Homo sapiens: one gene and its partners. The protein of the gene in region 1 purifies or fractionates together with the protein of each later gene. This does not show direct contact. Each region holds a gene or a part of one and is shown in the gene's direction. Other genes may lie near its edges.

Region 1 (3,654 bases):
TTTAGAGCAGGAGAAACCAAGGCTCAGCATTGCCAAGCAACCCGGGTGAGGCCATACAGTTACTGCACATCCCAGAAAGCCACGCTCTGGGAGAGTTTGGTCAGGTGTCTTGGACTAAATGTTGGTGAATGTCACGGCCATGCTCTGCTGGATCTGGGGTGGGTGCCCAGCGCCAGAGGCAGGCTGTGAGGACGTCCCAGGGGCTGAGTGACTTGGGAGAGGCTTTTCACAATGGAGAGGTGGAGCTGGTATGTCTTGGTTTCAGAGCAGCTTCTGGCACAAGCGATTTGTGTACTTTGCTTTTTACCCAGGAATTTTTTTTCTTTCGTTCTTTTTTCTTATGAGACAAGGTCTCGCTCTGTCACCTAGGCTGGAGTGCGGTGGCACCATCATGGCTCACTGCAGCCTCCACCTCCCGGGCTCCAGAGATCGTCCCACCTCAGCCTCCTGAGTAGCTGGGACTACAGGTGTGAGCTACTGTGCCTGGCCCAGGAAATCTTTTGTAAGGGCCTGCTACAGGCCCGGCTCAGTGAGGCTGCAGTGAGCAAGAGCCGACTGTCCCTCTCTCAGTGGGGCCAGACCTCCCGCACCACAACTCCAGGGGCTGCTGTGCACAAATGGCGCCCCCTGGAGTTGAGTAAGGAAGAGTCTGGGCAGAGGCCTAGATTCTTGGAAGAGAAGCAGATGATACACAGGTGAACAGGCACATGAGTGGTTAGACATTCTCTAGATGTAATGAAGGAAATACATGGTGCTCTAGAAGAGACTCATGGCGGGGCCTGCTTCAGAGCAGTGGTCCAGGAAGCAGCTCTCCCAGGGTGAGGGAACAGCTGGAGGGAGATGGTGTCGTCGGATGGAAAATGTGCTAAGCTGGGCAACACAACTTTGCTTCCTGACACTGCCAGCTCAGTGATCTTGGGACAGTCCCTTCCCTTTTAGACTCCCCTTGTTTGCTCAGGTGACAAACAAGGTCTTGGGTTTTTTGCGCTCATTGGACCAGGTGAGGTGGGCATGTGCCTTCCCTTTATAAAGTGCTGAGTGAGGCAGGGGGTCAGAAACTCCAGCACCTGGGGGCGGGGGTGGGGGCGTGTTGTGGAGTTGAGGGTGCAGGCCGGGAGGGAGGCTATGGGCTGTGTAGGGACTTTGGAGCTGGAGGCAGCCCACCCTGGTAGGCAGCTGGGCCGGTGCTAATCAAGTGGGAATTCAGTCTCGTGTGGCCAGAATTACCAGTTGCTCAGCTCTGCAGTTGATCTGCTGAGGTGAGTATTTTTAGTTGTCTTGAGTCCAGAAATGGACAGCATCCCCCGAGGGTCTAAGGAGCGGCACCTGTGGGCTGTTTTGGCCTCGGGTCGCCAGTTTGGGACCAGTTGGGTCTTCGTGATCATCTTGGCTGAACCTTTATCTTGCCTCCCTGGAAACCCATCATGGGGAGGGGAGGTCAAGGACCCCGGGCCCAGGCTTCCTGGACATGCCTCACGGATGGCTGACCTAGGGAGCCCCAGGCACAGAAGTGAGCTAATCTGGAATGAGGCCGGGGAATTCGATTAGGCCCAGGTCACAGGAAACAGTGAATGCAGGATGCTGACCAGGCACCCCTATGTGGGTGTCAGGGGGGTGAGGGAACAGGCAAGAGGGAGGGCTGAGAAAGAGGTGAACCCTGGGTCTGGGGGAAGTGGTCAGCTGGCTGGAACGTTGTGTGCAGACAAGCCCTCTGCAGCAGTTGTGGCCTTTTGGGACCCAGCATTAACCTAAAAGAAGACAGTACCCAGCCAGAACCCCCCACCCAGTGCCTCAAGGACAATGTAGGTTCCTCCCAAATGCTTCCCTCCAACCCCAGGGCCCCTGAGAGTTCACATTCTATTCTGAACTGGGATAACTTCCCTTCCCTGCCCCCATCATCCAACCTGATTCCTCCAGAATCTGGAGCTTAAACAACCAAGACACATTCCCCCACAGTTCCGGAGTTCAGGGTCCAAGGTCAAGGCCTCGGCAGGGCTGGTTCCTTCTGAGGGCTGTGAGGGAGTATCTGTTCCCACCTCTCTGGCTGCTGGGAGCCTCAGGAGCCCGTTGGCTTGTGTGTGAGGTTCTCTGGGTGGGTTACAGAGTGCGTGAGAAGGGGAGGGCTCGTGGAGGACGCAGAGTGGGGAGGGCAGCGAGCATTGTTGGAGAGGCTGCAGCTCCACTTCCTCTTTTGAATAGGAAGGTCTGGGTGGGCCTCATGAGAAGGTGACTTTTGAGCAAAGCAGTGAAGGTACGGGAGCTGCTCCTACGGACTCCAGGAGGAGAAAGGAGCTGGCAGGACAGGCCTGGAGGTGTGAGCTGGTGGTGCAGGATGGGGAGAGAGCAGCAGAGATGAGCTCTTTATCTTCTCATCTAAGTTTAAGCCCCACAATACTGGCTTTCTGGAAACCATCTTGAGGTGTTCCCATGAAGGAGGGAGGGGCCCACTCTGCCTGGGGTGCCCTAAGGACAGAGGGACAGTCTGTGTCAGTCTGGCCCCTGGCCAAGCGTATTCACACATGCCTGTAATCCCAGCACTTTGGGAGTCCAGGTGGGAGGACTGTTTGAGGCCAGGAGTTCAAGACCAGCCTGGGCAATATAGGGAGACACCCCCATCTCTACAAAAAATTCAAAAATAAACGGCATGGTGGCACACCTGTGGTCCCAGCTACTTAGGAGGCTGAAGTGGGAGACTCACATGAGCTCAGGAGTCGGAGGCTGCATTGAACCTTGATTGTGCCACTGCACTCTAGCAAGACCCTGGCTTTTTCTTTTTTTCTTTTTTTTTTTTTTTGTTGTTGTTGTTGTTTTCAACAGGGTCTTGCTCTGTCACTCAGGCTGGAATGCAGTGGCGTGACCATGGCTCACTGCAGCCTTGGCCTCATGGGCTCAGGCGATCCTCCTACCTCAGCCTCTTGAGTAGCTGGGACCACAAGTGTGCAGACCACACCTGGCTAATTTTTGTATTTTTTTGTAGAGATGGAGTTTCGCCATGTTGCCCAGGCTGGTCTCGAACTCCTGAACTCAAGCGATCCTACTGACTCGACCTCCCAAAATGGTAGGATTACAGGTGTGAGTCACCATGCCCAGCCAACCCTGTCTTAAAAACAAAACAAAAATATCTGGCCCCTGAAGCCCCGTGCTGTGGGGGAGGCTCAAATCTTTCTCATAAGCTGGACTGCATACAGGTTGCAGATAATAATTTGTTTAACTTGTGCAGTTTAATCAAAAACATTTGGCATGGGGGGAATTTTGAATAGATTGCCCACATTTTATTTTTTATTATACTCTTTTTATTTTTTGGAGGAAGGGCCCAAGGACCAGAGCAGAAGGGCTATTATTTTAAATAGAAAGATTTTATGTAAAAATACAGATTTCTAGACCAGGCACAGTGGCTCATGCCTGTAATCCCAGCGCTTTGGGAGGCTGAGGTGGGTGAATCACCTGATGTTGGGAGTTCGAGACCACCCTGACCAACATGGAGAAACCCCGTCTCTACTAAAAATACAAAAGTAGTTGGGCGTGATGGCGCATGCCTGTAATCCCAGCTACTGGGGAGGCTGAGGCAAGAGAATCGCTTGAACCGGGAGGTGGAGGTTGCAGTGAGCTGAGATCATACCATTGCACTCTAGCCTGGGCAACAAGAGTGAAACT
Region 2 (3,654 bases), on another chromosome or scaffold:
GTTGTCAGCATTTGATGCCGAACCCACAGGGACACTTTGTGTATTTGCTTTGCAAATGGTATTAATAGAAGAAAATCCTGTCTGTTAATAGTGTTGATCATTACCAGCTGAAGTAATATTTTCTTTAGTGATATACTTTTAATGAGTTAAAATTTTTGCTAAGAAATGCCAGTTACAAAGTTTTGGTATTCAGTGTTAGTCATTTGGGTCTCAATGTCAAGTTCAAAGGAGGTATGTGAAGTATGATTTGGTTTAGTTTTCAAATTAAACTTAAATTAAGTAAGGCCAGTAAAACCTTACTGACCTCACTAGTTTGGGGCTAATTTTATATTGGGGAGCTGTATGCATTTATGAAAATAATTTTGCTTTCAAGTAGATTTATGGCAACTCAAATTAAGCCAAAAAAAATTTACTTAAGATTTCTACATCAATTAAGGAATAAGAATAACTTGTTAGTATATTAAGATAATGACTGTGATTTATTTGTGCAGCCACATTAAGTGAAAAGAGAGCTAAATTTGAAGATAAAATACGGAATTCCTATCTCACTTTAGTATTCCGTAGTTCTCCTGTATAATGCTGGCGTTATTAATGTAATAATAATATTATCAACATAACAAAAGTAGCTCTTTCTCAAGCTTGTTTATATTATTCATTGACAGCAAACTTTAATTATATATTTTCCTTTCTTGCTATAATATCTAGAAGTAGATTTTTTAAAATGTCGGTTAATAGTACTAGCAGTTTAGTGTAGGCAGATAGGGTAGTTGTCATTAAGGAAGCCTATATAAAGGTGGGAAAAATGGGGTTGCCAAATCAAATTAGCCAGGTATTTAGCTAGAAAGTGGAATAGTGGGAGAGTCACCACCTAAAGAAGGTCACTGCACACCACTTTTGTTGCCTCATTGTGCTGGGTGTGATCTTTTTCCTGTTGGCTGGGGCTGCCTGTGAATGCTAGGTGTAACTTACCATCTCTTACTGTAGTGATTTTCTGTGCCCTGATGGTGAAATGCCCTGCTTTACTAATTGCTCACCATTTTGCCCATTGTTTTATATTTATATATTTGTTTGTCTGTTTGTTTGTTTTTGCATGTATTAGATACATGTATCTAATACATTTTGGAATTATAATAGCATGCAGAGATTTGTATATCGCCAAATAATTGTTAAATATATGACCAGAAATTAAGAGAAGACTTACACTGTCCTCTTGTGTTATGTTTTTGAGATTTGTTTTAGCTTTCCTTTGTTAGCTTAATTGGTTAGAATACTGCTCAAAGCCAAGGTTAGGAATTTGAATTCTCTATTAGTTAGTTGGTTTATGTCACTGATTCTAAAGGAAATCCAGCAAGCCAATACAGATGCTTTCATATAAATCAGTTCTCACCGGTATTTTAAATAAAATTTTAAATTTATAAACTGAATATGATGCTTTGTGATTAATCATGCATTATTAAACTGCTTATTCAACTTCTCATACTACCAAATATTAAAAATAATCTTATAAAAATGAAAATTTTAGCTTTTCCTAATGAAATGAAGCAAAAATAGTGGTTGTTAAACTAAACCTCCCATTTTTCTTGTGTCTCTATTCCCTTCCTTCTTTTCCTCTTTTTTATTTTGTTGTAATTAAACTCAGAAAAATTTAAATTGCAATGTAATTTTGTTACTTTTCAAGTGTTTTTATATAATACAATGTGCTTTTAGATACTTAATTTTATTACTGAGTATTAAAGAAAAGTATAGTCCAAATAATTTTTATATTATTTCTAGAAGAAATGGCAACATATCTTCGTTATGTAAGAAGGCTAGATTTTTTTGAAAAACCAGACTATGACTACTTAAGAAAGCTTTTTACTGACTTGTTTGATCGAAAAGGATATATGTTTGATTATGAATATGACTGGATTGGTAAACAGTTGGTGAGTATTCTATATAATAATATATTACTTACAGTATCTGTTGCCTTTTTAATAGTACAATATCTTCAATTGAAAAGAGTTGAGAACAAATAGTTGTTTTAAAGGATTCATTTTATTGTTTTTTAAGGGACATTTCTGCAGGTAGTGCCGTACTAGTGTTCTTTGAGTTTTTCAGAAGCCCTACATCTGGATTCTTTGCCTTTTAGCATGAAGAGTTACTTTTAACTTTTCATCCTGATTTAGTTCTTAATGTCAAATATACTCTTTTTTGTGTAATATTCTCATGATTAATTTAATACTTCAATCCCTTGATGAAAATTAAAATTTGTATGAGTCTCTTCAAGTCAAAATATTGGAAATAAGTAATTTTATTAGTTTTTTTATTCTTTTAATTTTCTTAAAAGTTTATTCTATGTATACATTTGCTTTGGAAATGAGAGGCATAAACATATACATTTTTATCATGTTGATATGAAAATGTAGCCTAAAAGTAATGGCAGCATTAAGTGTTCTGTAGATGTAAAAATAAGTACTTTATAAAGAATTTGAATATTTTAAAAACACTTTAAAAAGTAGGTATATTCTTTTTGCTTTACCTTCTTAGCTTTAACAACATATTTTGATAATGATGCCTTTACTTAAAGCCTTAGTTTATTTAACAGTCTTTTGTTTTTTTCCTTAATTCTTTTAAGCAGCTAAATGATTTTAAATAAGAATTTTAAAATGGAATGTATTGATACCAATTGTTATTGTATTGTAGCCTACTCCAGTGGGTGCAGTTCAGCAAGATCCTGCTCTGTCATCAAACAGAGAAGCACATCAACACAGAGATAAGATGCAACAATCCAAAAACCAGGTTTGCTGCCCTTTAGATATGAAATACCTTCCTTTCATGATTGAAACATACACTTTTTTCTTCAATAGATAAAACAGACTGAAGGATTGAAAATACATATTTTTAATAGATAATCTATTTTCTCTTAATTTCACTGTTTATTAGTTTAATAATAGCATTAAAATGTTTAATCATAAATCCTTAATTAATGGTACAAATTAGTGTAAACTTTTAGGAATATGTGATATTCTGTTAGAATGGAAGTATTTGGATACCCTATTAGAATGAATTGTAATAACACTTGGACTTTCTAACTGTAGTTTAGTTCAATAAATTATTTATTGAATTTCTGCTATTGTAAAGCTACTGTTCTACACATTATAGAAATTCAGAAGTAAAGAAGACTGTATAACCTTTAAGAATGATTTTGTCACCAGTGTCTAAAAGCAGTGTTGTAGCTAAGAGTTCACTCAATTCTTTAGAATCAGGCATACATGGATATGGCTTGACCCTGGGCAAATAAGTTAATCTGTCAAAGCCTCAGTTTCCTCATCTATAAAATGGAAATAATGCATGTTAATTTAGAGCATACAGTAAGCTTTGAATCAAAACTCTTGTGTCTGCTGTTACTGTTATTATTATTACAATAAATACAGAAATAGCTATATTTAAAAAGAGAATAAGCTATATTACATGAAACACTAATAAAGTAGCATGGAGATCATATGTGGGGCTCTATGAAGATTTTATGGAAAAGGTAGCTTTTGACATGAACCTAAAGAATGAATGGAGTTTTTAAAGGGAAATGAAGATAAGGGCATTTTGGGGAGAGTGAATAATATAAAATATGAAGCAGAAGTTTAAAAATAGAGAATTTGAGGAATAGCAAGCGGTTCA
Region 3 (3,654 bases), on another chromosome or scaffold:
CAATGGCCTCTATGCTCAAAGAACTAATAATTGCTAGGCTCTTATATAGGATTTTTAATTTTTTTTTTTAATGGCAACACTTAGCAATGGCTTGACTCATTTTTTTTCTCCTTATTTTTATATTCAGTTTTTCAACTAAACACCTTTACCCAGAGATTGTTTAAAATATGAAAATTTGTCATTAACTACTTGGTAAGTGAAATTAAAAACCCAGTAAGGCAGCTTAAGCTGAATGAGGTTTTATGTCTAATTGGCATGTGACGTAAATTATATACATTATGTTTAGGATAGTTAAAAAGGCTTACCGTGGCTAGTTTTTATAAGGAAATAATTTAAGACATTCTAGAATTCTGCAAATTAAATTATATATGTATGCATGTATATACTTTTTGAGACAGAGTCTCTCTCTGTCACACAGACTGGAGTGCAGTGGTACGATCATGGCTTACTACAGCCTTGACTTCCCAGGCTCAAGCAATCCTCACATCTCAGCCTCTTAAGTATCTGGGACTATAGGTGCATGCCACCGTGCCGATGAAACTGTGTATTTAAATGGAACATGGTAGGCAGTTAAGTACTTGAGGAAATTGAAATTTGTCAACAAGGGATCTTAGTTATCTGTATTACGTATTAAAAGGGCTCTAGGGAAGCGGTTGAGAGGTTAAAAAAAAAAAAAAAACACCCTGAAAAATGTGATCTCCTTGCCGTGTGGTCTAAAAAACAAAAAACTTAGTAATTAAAAATTTTAAACTTAGATATTAGTTTTCATGGTTTGTGTTAACCTTACTATGGGAATTAAAATTTATGAACAGGAGATTTCATTTGGTTCATTAATTATTGAATATATCACCAGGGAAACTCTTTGGGGGGAAAAAAATGAAAAAACCACAGACTCCTCCTGGCTGTAAGACATAAAGAAAATAGAGATAGGTTAGTATGTAAATTTCATTCATGTTTATGTGTTGACTCACCTTTTAATGCAAAAAAATCTTTGCAAAGGTTTTAGAAATGATGAGACAGATTATGAGAGGATGCTGAAGAATCGGGGGGATTGTGTGTTCCCTTAAGGCATTGAAGAGCAGTCTTGGTATATGTGATAGAGAGTGTTGTAGGATAAAAACGTGAATAGGAAAATCAGCAGTAGAACAAAACTAAATGGGACTAAATGTAACTAAAAATGAATATTCTATTCGAACTGCATGGTAGAGATAAGACCCTTTGAATGATAGATTCCGAGAACATTAGTGGTGGGGTAGAGAATTGGGGATGGGATAGAATCCCAAATAACTTCAGTTATTAATTAGCTGCTAATCTAAACCTGAGACAGTAATTGTATAGTATTTTTGTAAATGAAGTGTCATCCTGAGGTAGCAGAGATGGATATCTGCTCATCTCAGAACAGTATCACCATAAGTACACTTGCTTGTTAACTAAAACCTCTAAAATTTTATCTTATAGGTAGGCATTATGGCTTTGTTAAGAAAAATGAAATCTACAGTGAAAGACACTGGATGCTGTATTCTATTTCTACTTATTGGTAACTTTAAGATATTTTACCTGTTTTTTTGAGACGTCTCACTCAGTCACCCAGGCTGGAGTACAGTGGTGAGATCTCGGCTCACTGCAACCTCTTTCTCCCAGGCTCAAAAGATTCTCATGCCTCAGCCTCGCAAGTAGCTGGCATTACAGGCATGCACCACCACACCTGGCTAATTTTTGTATTTTTAGTAGAGATGGGGTTTCACCATGTTGGCCAGGCTGGTCTCGAACTCCTGACCTCAGGTGATCCAACTGCCTCAGCCTCTCAAAGTGCTGGGATTACAGGCATGAGCCACTGTGCCCAGCCATAAGATATTTTACTTTTATTAAAGCTGTGAACATAAGAAATTGTAGCTACTTTTCCGTGACTATGGTAATTGCACATGTTAACATTTTGTCCTATGAAGCGGAGTTAGCAAATAAGCTAGATGGTAATGCTTGTGAGGCACTCATAAACATTTGTTGGATGAAATTCTGATATCCCCAGTTGTCATATTCTAACCCTTTAATGGTGGGATTGATTTTTAAAATTTTTGTATGTAACCAAAAATAATATATAACCAAGTCTGGTAAATTTAAAGGGTTGTTTCTGGTAAAACAAAAGCAAGTTATGTGACTTTAAGTGATACAAAACTGCCGGGTATGGTGGATCACACCTTTCATCCCAGCTACTCAGGAGGCTGAGATGGGAAGACAGTCTGAGCTCAGGATGTCAAGACAGGCCTAGGCAACATAGTAAGGACCCCACCTCTAAAATTTTTTTTTTTTAATTAGCTTGGCATGGTGGTGCATACCTGTAGTTCCAGCAACTTGGTAGGCTGAGGTCGGAGATCGTTTGAGCCACTGGGTTCAAGGCTGCAGTGGTGAGCAAGGATGGCAGTGCCACTGTGCTTTAACCTGGGCGACAGAACAAGACCCCATCTCTTAAAAAAAAAAGTGACATAGGACTGTGGCTTGGTAACACAGAGATAACTACATGTGGTCGTATAAAAAAAAATCCAAGAGATAATAATGCTTGAGTGGGTCATGTAAGAAAAGACAGGCTAAGTGTATGATTTTAAATTTACATAATCATAATTTATGTTTCTAATGTTTAGTTCACAAAATCTTAGAGTACTAAAACCAAGAGGCTCCTCTTAGAGAAGGTAGTTTTAGGACTAAGTAAAAGGAAATGCCCTGCTATTTTACAGAGCTGACGTAAATTGACAGAACTTGTTACTTTTAAGAAGTAGTACAGGTGAAAATATAAGCATACTAAAAATGGGTTCAATGAATTCATGGACAATAGTTTCAAAACGTATTGTGTAAAATTTAAGAGAAATCCTTAGTATGTTGAGTTCAGCCACATTCTCATAAACATTTGGTTTCAATGACGTAATACTTTAAATACAAGTTCTGTCATAGCATTTACACTGTAATATGATTATAGTGATGAGCCCCATAACGATATTTCAGTCGGCCGGGCTTGGTGGCTCACGCCTGTAATCCCAGCACTTTGGGAGGCCGAGACATGTGGATCACCTGAGGTCAGGAGTTTGAGATCAGCCTGACCAACATGGTGAAACCCTGTCTTTACTAAAATACAAAAATTAGCCAGGCGTGGTGGCGGGCACCTGTAATCTCAGCTACTCGGAAGGCTGAGGCAGGAGAATTGCTTGAACCCAGGAGGCGGAGTTTGCAGTGAGCCGAGATCGTGTGCCACTGCACTCCAGCCTGGGCAACAAGAGTGAAACTCCGTCTCAAAAAAATGATGTTTCAGTCAGTGAGTTGACTGTATATAGGGTGATGGTCCCAATTTTTTTTTTTTTTTTTGAGATGGAGTCTCACTCTATCACCCAGTCTGGAGTGCAGTAGTGTGATTTTGGCTCACTGCAACCTCTGCCTCCCGGGTTCAAACGATTCTCCTGCCTCAGTCTCCCAAGTAGCTGGGATTACAGGCGCCGGCCACCCAGCCTGGCTAATTTTTGTTTGTTTGTTTGTTTTTGTATTTTTAGTAAACACAGGGTTTCACCATGTTGGCCAGGCTGGTCTTGAACTCCTGACCTCAGGTGGTCCACCTGCCTTGGCCTCCAAAATTGCTAGAATTACAGGCATGAGCCACCATGCCTGGCTTTA

Evidence for each region.
Region 2: the proteins of SERHL2 (region 1) and CSNK1G3 purify together in Homo sapiens (affinity purification with mass spectrometry; 2 studies listed by BioGRID and IntAct, with this or other methods). This does not show direct contact.
Region 3: the proteins of SERHL2 (region 1) and GNB4 purify together in Homo sapiens (affinity purification with mass spectrometry; one large-scale study listed by BioGRID and IntAct). This does not show direct contact.

The regions. Positions count from the first base shown.
Region 1 is NC_000022.11:42,560,412-42,564,065, forward strand, and holds part of SERHL2 (serine hydrolase-like protein 2), read left to right. Parts: intron 1-2,977; coding exon of another isoform or gene 2,978-3,058; intron 3,059-3,654. UniProt on the Homo sapiens protein: Probable serine hydrolase. May be related to cell muscle hypertrophy.
Region 2 is NC_000005.10:123,588,637-123,592,290, forward strand, and holds part of CSNK1G3 (casein kinase I isoform gamma-3), read left to right. Parts: intron 1-1,773; coding exon 1,774-1,922; intron 1,923-2,682; coding exon 2,683-2,778; intron 2,779-3,654. UniProt on the Homo sapiens protein: Serine/threonine-protein kinase. Casein kinases are operationally defined by their preferential utilization of acidic proteins such as caseins as substrates. It can phosphorylate a large number of proteins. Participates in Wnt signaling.
Region 3 is NC_000003.12:179,441,449-179,445,102, reverse strand, and holds part of GNB4 (guanine nucleotide-binding protein subunit beta-4), read left to right. Parts: intron 1-3,654. UniProt on the Homo sapiens protein: Guanine nucleotide-binding proteins (G proteins) are involved as a modulator or transducer in various transmembrane signaling systems.